Homo sapiens: one gene and its partners. The protein of the gene in region 1 purifies or fractionates together with the protein of each later gene. This does not show direct contact. Each region holds a gene or a part of one and is shown in the gene's direction. Other genes may lie near its edges.

Region 1 (3,657 bases):
GGCTATCACCTAACTCAGGGCAAGGTATTTTAGAAGATTTTTCAGGGACAGTAACCCTTAAGTTGAAACTTGAAAGATAACAAAGTGAATGTACGTGTGTGTGTTTGAAGTTTGGGGTTTGGAAAAGATTCCAGGCAAAGGCAGTAGCATGTGCCATAACATAGAGATCAAGGAAGCACATTTTCAGTTCGAGAAACTGTAAAAGATAAGAACATGGATGTGGAGTGTATTGAGATGAGGTTAGGGCAGTCAATTTCAAACTTGTTGGCCACTTTGCCCAAAAAGGAATGTATTTGAATTTACAACCCAGTACACACATATGTATAACTAGATGAAAAGTTTTGTAAAATAATATTTAATTATCTGCACATTGCTTTGAGGTTTTTTTGCTTTTGAACTTCTCTGTTCTCTTTTTATTAATGCTGGTCATGATCCTTTAATATAATTTCAGAAACAGCAATTTGAAAATCTCTGGGCTAGAAAAATACGCGGGGCCTTGAGATACATTGAGTCTTTCTAAGGACTGTAGCAAGTCATTAAAACATTTTAAACAAAGAATGAAATGACTGGATTTTAAATGTTTAAATTCACTCTGGTAGCAGTATAAGGAATGGATTGAAGAGAGGTAATCCTGGTTCAGGGGGACCAGTGAAGTAGCCCTTGCAGTAACTAAGGTGAGAAATGACAGCTTGAATTAGCACGTTGGCAGTGGAGATGGAGGGGAGTGGACAGATTAAAGTGATTTAGGAGGTAGACTCAAAATGATTTTGTGATGTATTTTATCTGAAGGGACGAGTACAGTGTTAATGATGACTCTTTTATGCCTATCTGTAAGGATCAGGCTTGTTGGAAGAAGGCTCAGCTATGGACACTATGAGTTTGATATTGTTATAGGGCATACAAATGAGGATTTGCAGGAGGGAGAGGGCTGTGTAGATCTGATGCCTAGAAAAATCTAGACTGGAGATAAGTATTTGACAGTTAATGGGCTCATGGGTAGTAGTTGGAGTGTGGGAGTGAACAGTCAGAAATAGAGTGGGCCCAGCCTGAATTCTATAGACCATTGCTTCTCAGACTTGAATGTGCATAGGAATCACCTGACATCTTGTTAAAATGTAGGACACTGGTGGGATCAGAGATTCGACTTTTGTTACAGGCTCCCAGGTGATGCCAGTGTTGCTGGTCTGTAGATCACTCAGGCTGTCAAATACGGAAAATGAAAATTTAAGGACAGGCTGAGGAAAAGAAGGTTACAAAATAATCTAGGAAAGATCAGCTAGAGAAGAGAAAAATAAGGTGTGTGTTGTTTTGAAATCTAAGAGTAGTGTTTAAAGGAGAGAAGAGCGTATCAACAAGAAGTAATTGATAGTGGCAAGCATGCACAAATGATGTAAGAGCAGAGAATGTCTATTGGATTTATCAACAAGGTCGTTGATGATCTTAATGGGAGTCCTTTCTGTGGCATTGTGGAAGTAAAAGCCAGATTGCGGTAGGGTGGCAAGTGAAACAGAGATTCAGAAGTGGAACATTTTCCAGTAGTTTTGCTGTGAAGATGAGGAAGAAAAATAGTGCCGTAGCTGATAGGGGTAGGGGAATTCACGAGAGGGTTTTTTGTTTTTAAGGTGAAGAGATTTGACCATGTTCATGCCCTGAGGGAAGCACCCAGTGAAGAGGAAATCAAAGTGGGCAAATCAAAGTGGGCCAAATTATGCTGCAGTAATAACCAACCCCCAAATCTTAATGGTTTATAACAAGCAAGGTTTGATTCTCTACCACATTACTAAAAGAAGCAAACCAGAATATCGGTTGACTGCCTAATGTCTACTGGAGAGGTTAGAAATTTAGGAAAGCAAGGTAAATTTCAGTGAAGGAGGTGGCCCTGAGGACATGAAAGGAACTGGACTGCAGAGCTCAGGTTGAGGGGTTAGCCTTTAAAATGCACTTCTTTTATAACAAGAAAGAAAAGAGAAAAGGATAAATTCTGATACAGGCGGGTTTAGGTTTGGTGATAACCAACTGAGGACCTTTTCTTAGGGCTTTTGTTTTGTGAAAAACTGCGTGTGAATGCTGAGGGCAAACAAAAGGGTGGTATTGGCCTGTTACAGAGAATGGGGAGACAGTGTGAAGTAGTTGCAGATAATTAGAAAGCTGATAACATAAATTTGATGGACATCATTTAGGGTTTCTTGCCAGGAACTGAAAACTAGAAGCAGGGTATTTGAGAATGTCCAAGAAAGTGGGAAATAATCAAAATTCTATGATAAAAGAAAATAGTCATGAAAAAAATGTGTTTTGAGATTCTCCAGGCAAGGAGTGAAATAAAGTGAAGCGTGGTAGAACTAGAAGAAGGTTGTTGAGGGGGAGAGAGGCATCCTACAAAAAGGCAAGATCCAAGTTTGGAATTAAGGTATGTTCTCTGCTACCTGCAGCATCCAGAAACTCATTGTGGGGAGAACATCATTAAAAATACAAATGTTTTTATTTAGAGTGTAAATTACATTTTCAAGGGCTAATCATACATGCTCATTGTAAAAGATTCAGCTGTTCATTCCTTCCATTGACAGACTTCTCTGGGGCACATACCATGTACCAGAATTATATCTGGCAGAGACACTGCAAGAAGTATAGGATATGGAGAGTGAATAACCTCTTTTCAAATTAATAGTAATAAAAACAAGATCCTACTACACAACTGACTTATTTAATACTTTGGTCATCTTTCCTGTTTATATACTTGCAGAAAGATCTACCCACTGTTAACCACTGGGTGTACTACAATTCAACTAATTCCTTATTGATTAGCAGATGCTTACTTGGTACATATGCATTGTGTAAGGTATCTTAAAGTCTACCAACTGATGTTGACTTTTTAATGAAAATGAATTTTGTTGTGATAGTTTGGACTGGAAGATTGTGTAGATCTGTTTATTTTCAGTAGACTGTTATGTTATCCAGTAATTCACCTTTTCCGGGGGCGTGAAATCTCATAAAATTAGAATAATCTTTTGTGCTGTTACGGGCAGGAAGTGGGCAATGTATTGTGAAATGTCAATCTAGGAAATTGTTTACTAAACAAAATATAGAGTAATGAGTTAACATGGAAAAGTGAGAACTGTAGGAATAGCAGATATAGGTTATATTCTAACTAAACAGATACATCAAAAAACCTTAAGAGGACTTTTAGTAGAGACATTTTATGTCCTGACAACTGAAATTAGCCACTCATTTTCACTTCAAAAAAGGAGGTAACATATAGTTCATTTGCTTTGCTTCTTCAGGTTTGTTGTTTTATCACTGATTTCTCATATTTATTACATTAGGTTATCCTCCTACCCATGTAAACTTATTTGAGCTTTCACAAAGCATGTAATACTGATTAGAATTAGAATGTCTTACAAAACCCTGTCTCTTGTCTTAAAGATGCTTATGTCTTGTTCTCCTGGGACACATACTCCTCTACCCACCCTGGGTTTTCAAACTTTATGTTAAACTTTGTTGTGACCAGCTATTTTGGTGTTTGTTTAATTGGGATAGAATACAGTGAAGAGAAGATAAGAGTTGCACTGTACAGAGTAAGGGAAGTATTTTGTGAAATTACTTGTATATGTGTGTACTGGGTCATTAGTTTTACTGTGGATTGCTATAAAAAATAAACAA
Region 2 (3,657 bases), on another chromosome or scaffold:
CCACCCTGGCTGGCATCCTGCCTCATCATTAAGTCTATTTCTGTTTTCATATTTGAAAACATAACTAAAATTGAGGGGTTCTTTACCTGGGGCCCAAAGTTTGCTCCCAGGGAATCTAATGAACCACCTGGAATCAAACATTTGGAGAGAAGGCCAGTCACTTTTATCGGAACGTCAGATGGTCATGGACCCTCAAGAATGATTGAAGAAATTTGTAAGCCCAGTTAAAACATCCACAGTCTTCTTTCCTCAGTGCAAAAGTTGCCCTTTTTGATATCTCATATTTAGAGTAAAAAAATTTCGTTAATAAGAGATCCTCTTTACTAGTTTTGTAAGGAGTTTTTTGTTTTCTTTTTTAACCTGCTATCTTAAATTATTAAGGGTTAAGTAAGGAGTTTTAAATACCAATAAAATCTTAGTTATAACACCAAGCCTCAGAAGTACTTCCTCTTGGCAATAGGTTTATTGTATTGGTTTAATCTGATACTTAATCTTCTGTATTATAGTAAGCTGAAACCAAAATTGAGATTTGATTGTTTTATCTGTTTGTTGCTATTATTTTTGAACTTCGTTTTTTTTTTTAAGAGACAAGGTCTTGCTATGTTGCCCAACTGGCCTCAGAATCCTGAGCTCAAAGTGATCCTCCCACATCATGCTCCTCCCACATCACGTCACTATAAGCACACACCACTGCCCCTGGTTTATTTTGAACAATTCTTTAATTTTTAGGATATTGTTTCAGGTAACTGTCCTTATTGGCAATTTTCCCATCAGTGACCTGTGTACCTTGTTCCCAGCTCTCTCTATCATGCCCAGGCAACTTTTACTTGCTGAGCTGGGGCTTTAGAACTTACCCCTTAAAAATACGCACCGGAGAAATTGATTTGCATCTCTCTTTTGTAGTTTACCCCTCTACTCCCAAGTAATATTCCTATTTGTGATACATTCTTTAAAAATAAAAGTAAAGAACCTGAAAGTTCTTGGCTCCCTTTTTCATTTTGGTTACCTTAAGATTTTTTCTAAAGTGATTCTCCCTTCACTCACACCACTGAATTTTTTAAATGTATTATAGAATAAATATATTTTTTACCAATAATAAGATTTCCCCTTTCAGAATTTCAAAGTTGTTTCTGGAGAGTTCATTTGTTAGGTTTACATATCTATTTCTGAGGATTAAACTACAATAAGGCAATAATAGAGTACACTTCTCTGTCATGCCCTCACATTGAGTGTACTATGTTAGTGTTAAATCTCAAAAAAATTGATCTGTTTTGCATTTCCTCTTCTTGTTTTTACACCCCAAGTTCCTGTGAAATATTTTTTGAAAAGACTAGGTTTAGTGGAAATATAACATATGCGGTCTGCTTTTTTCTTACAGTTGAAAATGGTGAACATTGTGATTTTACAATCCTAAGAAATATGTTGATAAGGTAAGTGCAAGCAATGATGGAAATAGCATAAGATTTTCTTTCCCTAAGTAAGAGTTGGACAGATTTACTTTTTGCCTTCTATAAATGTAGCTAATTTAAATTTATATCTTCAGTCTAGCCATGAAGTAAACACTACATATAGATGATTCTTTCTCCAAGGTTTTGAAGTCATGAGCAAAAGTTGCAAAGTAATTTGTCTAGGGATACATAGGAAAATTAGTCTCTTTATCATTATACTTTGTGTCGAGATTTAATACTGAAATAACTATGGAAAGTGAAGTAGAAGAGGCTCTTTTTTCTTAATGTGAAAACCTTGTGAAAACTATATAAGAGAAGGCTAGTTTTTGAGTCCAAAGCTAGAATTTGAATGTTAAAAGGTGCACAGCCTGGTAGCTGGTGAGTAGGGCACATTTTATGTACTGGAACATAGTGAATAAAACCAGTATTCCTACCAGGTGAGAAATCCCTAAATTGTGTCTTACACACCTGCTGAAAGAGAAGGAAAGCCTATGGGAGCAGGACATCGAGGCCATCCTGATTAGAGGACCAGGACTGTAAAGAGGATCTCTTACTAATGAATTAGAAAAGCAGCAGCAGAGAGGAAATCATGAAGAAAAAGTGTAATAGGACTAGAGATGTTAGTAGACAAGGAACAGAAAGGGCATCAAAATGATCCTCAGTATTTTCATGTTGAGACACATTCATTCCCCTCCCTACCTGACTCCGCATTTCCCACTTTTCTCTCTTGCTTCTCTACACCTTTACCACATACTCTCTTTAACCTTCAGTTTTAGATGTCTGTCTTTAGTTGATATCTATTAATTTTCATACCTCTACCCACTTTCCCAAAACATAAGAATCTCTTTTGCTGTGTAAAGAAAGGTAGTTACATAAATATGGATAATAGTTGGAAATCATGGAATAACAAGAGGTCATTCTCAAGGTGAGAAGTGAGGGGGAAAATTTAAGACAGTCAAACTGCTACCTCAAGAAATACAATAGAGGTGAGAGTGAATTTTGAAATTAAATAAATGGCATGTAATTGATCTTTATTTTCAAAGGAGCAGGTGTTCTTGGTAGGAACTACATGATAGGTTTAATTCAGCAGTTGAGGTTGCCAGGCCTCACTTAGTGGAGAAGAGCAAAAGCACGAGAAGGTCATCTTCTGGGTTTTGAGAATACAACACTTCAGGCTCTATTATGAACCATTCCCTTCCTCTTCCATTCTTAAGGTGTGACTTCAAAAGAATACATATTAATAATATAATCTGCTATGACAGTATATAAGTAGAGAATGTTTAATAAATACTAATTTACCATTGCATTCCTCTTGTTTTTAAATCTTCTATGGTACTTGCCTAGTGCTTGACACAATGGCATTCTATAACTTTTTCTTGTGTATTTTAAAAGTATACAATCAATAATTTCCTACATACCTAAAACACTGTAGAGGGGAAAGCTAGTTACTGAGCCAGAGGCTACTTTGTTGAGATGGAGTCTCACTTTCTTGCCCAGGCTGGAGTGCAGTGGCACGATCTTGGCTCGCTGCAGCCTCCACCCAGGTTCAAGTAATTCTCCTGCCTCAGCTTCCTGAGTAGCTGGGATTATAGGCATGCACCACTACACCTGACTAATTTTTGTATTTTTAGTAGAGACAGGGTTTCACCGTGTTGGCCAGGCTGGTCTCAAACTCCTGACCTCAAGTAAACCACCTGCCTCAGCCTCCCACAGTGCTGGGATTACGGGCTTGAGCCACCACACCCACCCAGCCCAGAGGCTACTTTGAATATTCGAAGGTTCACAGCCTGGCGGCTAGTGAGGGACCTCCCTAGTATAAGCATTACAGAGCAAATTGACCATGCCTGCAGGAAGATTTAATACAGCAGAGCAGCAAGACTTTTATGCCTAAAAATTCTAAAGTTATTATTAAAAAGATGTGTATTTAATTTAGCTCATGTCTTTAAGACAAAGCCATCTAGTGGATATTTAATAAATACTTGAAGGAAGGAAATAAAATACCAATACCAATATTACAGATGTCTGTAAATCCCAAATAATTGAAATCTTGCAGGTCAAAGGAATAGTGATTGCTTCTAAGAAAGAGGCAAGTTCAAAGAAGTTCTCTTGCTAATTAAGAGAACTAACTTACTCCAGGCAAACCAAGGAAGACGATGGAAAGGAGGAAAACTATACAAATATTTTCAGGGTGTGGATATGGGTGTTTCAG
Region 3 (3,657 bases), on another chromosome or scaffold:
TTTCTACCCCACACTCCCTTTGAATGCCAGAGAGCAGGGAGCATTTGCTAGAGCTGGGCTTCCATCCTCCTTGTTGTTCCTGGATGGTAGTCCTTTGAGCAGAGCACACATCTATTCTCTTGTCATCCTGGTCCTGTTTCCAGGACTTCATGTGGGGTCATTTTCCCTTGACTGTAGAGAATAGCAGGTGCAAATGGTTACTAGTTTCTATCCCTTGTGCTCCAAACTGCCCTCAGAAACCAAGTCTTCTAGATCATTGATGACTCCTCACATTTGTTAAAACACTCCCATGTGACAGGCACCAAACCAGGCTCAGGGAAAGACCAGGATCTTCACCAGAAGTAATCATAGGTGGTTTGGCTCCGCTCAGGAGCAACCTCATGAAAAATTCACATACATATAATATTGCACTGGACTGAGTATTGGTCCACTTCAGGGACCTCCAAACTTGGCTGCCCTGCTGCAACCCTGAACCTGATGGTGGGACCATTTTCCCCGGAGCTGTGTCAATGTTCTGAGAATGTGAGTTTCACCGCTGTGTGTAGTCCTAGGCCAGGTGACTGCAGGGCCCTCCAGAGGACAGTGAATGTAATGCAGCTGGGAGCTAGCACCGGAGCCTCAGCTCCTGTGCTTGTCCTGCAGTCCTCATTCAGACTTCCCAGCTTCCCTTCAGAGGGTGTGGAGAAAGCAAATTAACTTAACAATATCTTTTCCTAGGGTGGAGATGCACCTTGGGTGCAGCATTTAAGGAAGCACTCACTCTCACAGCTGTCCAAGTGCAGGATGGGGACTGAGAGTGAGCGCCTCCTTAAATCTTGTGCCCTGGGTTAGATGTCTGCTTGTCTTTTCCATTCTATTTCCTGTGTTTGGGAAGCAGCAGGTATAATAAAATGAACTTGTATTTTATTTGAATTCCAGCTCTACTGCTTACTAGCAGAATGATGCTTGGGAAGTTAGCCACTTTAAGACTTAGCTTTTGCATTTGTTAAGTGCTGATAATATAACCTCCTATATATGATGTGTGTGTGTGTGCATGTAATGTAACCTTATAGGATTATTGTTAAATATCTTTCAGTATTTACTAAGATACTATTTATGTATTACCTAATGTTTATGACCTGAAGCAGGTTTTGGCAATTACCCCTTCTGTCTGTTCATTCTTATTTCATAAGGAATGAGATAGACATGATTGAATCAGTTCACATTAAGACTTCAAGCAGATGGGGCTAGTTTCTGATCATTTGTTTTACCAGACCCTGAGTAATGAGTGGATATAATTTTTTTTTCTTTTGTCTTTAACTTTTTAGTATGGGAATTTTCAAACTTATAGAAAGGTAGAAGCATATAAGATCATGAAATCATATGTGCCCATCCCCTACCTACAGCAACGATCAGCTCAAGGCCAATTCTGTGTCATGTGTATCTTCACAGCATTCACCCAGCCCTACCCTGGATTATTTTTAGGCAAATTCCAGACATTATATTATTTCATTCATAAATATTTCAGGTAATTACTGAAGATTTTTTTAAAATATAATCACAATACCTTTTTTCTGAAATTTCAATAGTACTTCATTAATTTATAATATAAAATATTCAATGCTCAGATTTCCCCCATTACTTTTTTTTTTTTTCCAACGGAGTCTCTCTCTGTTGCCCAGGCTGGAGTGCAGTGGTGCGATCTTGGCTCACTGCAACCTCTGCTGCCTGGGTTCAAGCAATTCTCCTGCCTCAGCCTCCCAAGTAGCTGGGAGTACAGGAACCTGCCACTGTGCCTAATATTTGTAGTTTTTTAGTAGAGACAGGGTTTCACCATCTTGGCCAGGCTGGTCTTGAACTCCTGACCTTGTGATCCACCTGCCTCGGCCTCCCAAAGTGCTGGGATTACAGGCGTGAGCCACCACGCCTGGCCATCATTTGTTTTAATATTTTGTTAGAATCTGGATCCAAGTCAGATTTTGTAGTACTTTCTTTTTGTTGTTGTTGTTAAGAGACAAGGCCTTGCTCTGTTGCCCAGGCTGCAGTGCAGTGGTGTGATCATAGCTCACTGCAGCCTCAAACTCCTGGGCTCAGGTAATCCTCCCACCTCAGCCTCTCAAGTAGCTGGTACTACAGTTGCACACAACCACACCTGGCTGATGGTACATTTTTAAGCTTTTATTAATCTGTGAATTTCTTTACCAACACAACTTTACATTCTTCCTTTCCATCTGTGGATCATTTGTCTTCTTATTATCTGTACTGGATTTTGCTGATTATATTTCCGTGACATTTTACCACATCCCTCTGAGCCCCGTATTGCCTGTAAATTAGTAGTTGAAACTAAAGACTAGATCAGATTCAAGTTTTTGAAGTTTTGGTGAGAATATTTCCTACGTGGTGGTGTTTACTTCCTTCAGGGGCCCACAGTGTCTGATTGTCCCTGATTGAGTGATGTTGGTGACCATAGTTCATCATTGCCTAGATGTCTTGTTCCATTAGAGGCCATAAAACGATAATGTTCTCTGTTTCTCCTTCTTCTTTTATTACCTGCAATATTTCAGTAAAGAGAAACTTCCCCTCGTTTACTATTTGGCTTCCTTTATTTCATATAGAAAAAGCCAGATACATGCTTACTTGATACCTTCTCTTTATTTACCAGTTTTCAGAATGATAATTTCATTCTGTAACATCCTCAAGGTAAAGTGGTCTGCATCTTCGTTTTTTGAGTGTAATTATAAACATATGAATTTAAACATATTTGATACGTTTCAGTTTGTTACAGATATTATTCTTATTGATGCTCTAATTGCCCCACTGTTGGCCAGCGGGAGCCTCTTCAAGTTGGTTTGTTGGTCCTTTTGACACAGCTCCAGTAGTCGTTGATGGCTCCCTGGCTTGCTGGTATAATGAGATGTTTTGAGCACATCTTAGCATTTCTTGCCCTAGAGCTAGAATTAGCCATTTCTCTAAGGAACGCTGGTTTCTTATGGTGGGAAGGGGTATACGGGTACTATCAAAGGCAGGTCGGTGACCATTTCCTTTTAATTCTCTGAAATCTAAACAGCTGAAAGTGCCAAATGTGGTGTCTAGCCTGGCTCCATGGAATTTTTAACACGGAGTTCTCACACAGCATATGATCATTCCTCAACTCGCCACTTGATGTCACTGCATAGTCAAATGAGCATTCAAAATTACCCTGCAGTGGTTTGTGTTATTTCTGATTCTGTTGAAAGCAATGTTAATGAGATGGTAGAAGGCAAATGTACTACTTCAAATGCAAAAGTACTCTATCAAATAATGCAGTGAGTGCATTCAATGACAAAATTAATTCTAAAATGAAAGCCTGGCGTCCTTCATTCAGTCTTCCTTCTTTATGACCTTGTGAAGAGATGTTTACAAAGGGATTATACATTTATTAGCATCGTTAATTACCGGTGCTTTTAGATGAATAGAATGCTGTGAAAAAAAATAGCACTATCAGAATATGTTTAGTATTCACAAGAGGCAATAGAATTATCCTCACACTTAGACCAGCAGCAACATTCCAGACTACTGTCCTTTCTCTATGCACTTAAGTTAGAGTTTGGCCTTTTCAGCTCATTTCAGCACCAGGTTCTCAATAGGGACCAACAGCAGGAGAAGTTTGATGGTCTTAATGAAACTTTCACGGTTTAA

What was found.
Region 2: the proteins of DHX36 (region 1) and SEPTIN7 fractionate together in Homo sapiens (co-fractionation; one large-scale study listed by BioGRID). This does not show direct contact.
Region 3: the proteins of DHX36 (region 1) and HEBP1 fractionate together in Homo sapiens (co-fractionation; one large-scale study listed by BioGRID). This does not show direct contact.

What each region holds. Positions count from the first base shown.
Region 1 is NC_000003.12:154,317,831-154,321,487, reverse strand, and holds part of DHX36 (ATP-dependent DNA/RNA helicase DHX36), read left to right. Parts: intron 1-3,657.
Region 2 is NC_000007.14:35,884,450-35,888,106, forward strand, and holds part of SEPTIN7 (septin-7), read left to right. Parts: intron 1-1,378; coding exon 1,379-1,430; intron 1,431-3,657.
Region 3 is NC_000012.12:12,983,125-12,986,781, reverse strand, and holds part of HEBP1 (heme-binding protein 1), read left to right. Parts: intron 1-2,139; exon of another isoform or gene 2,140-3,438; intron 3,439-3,657.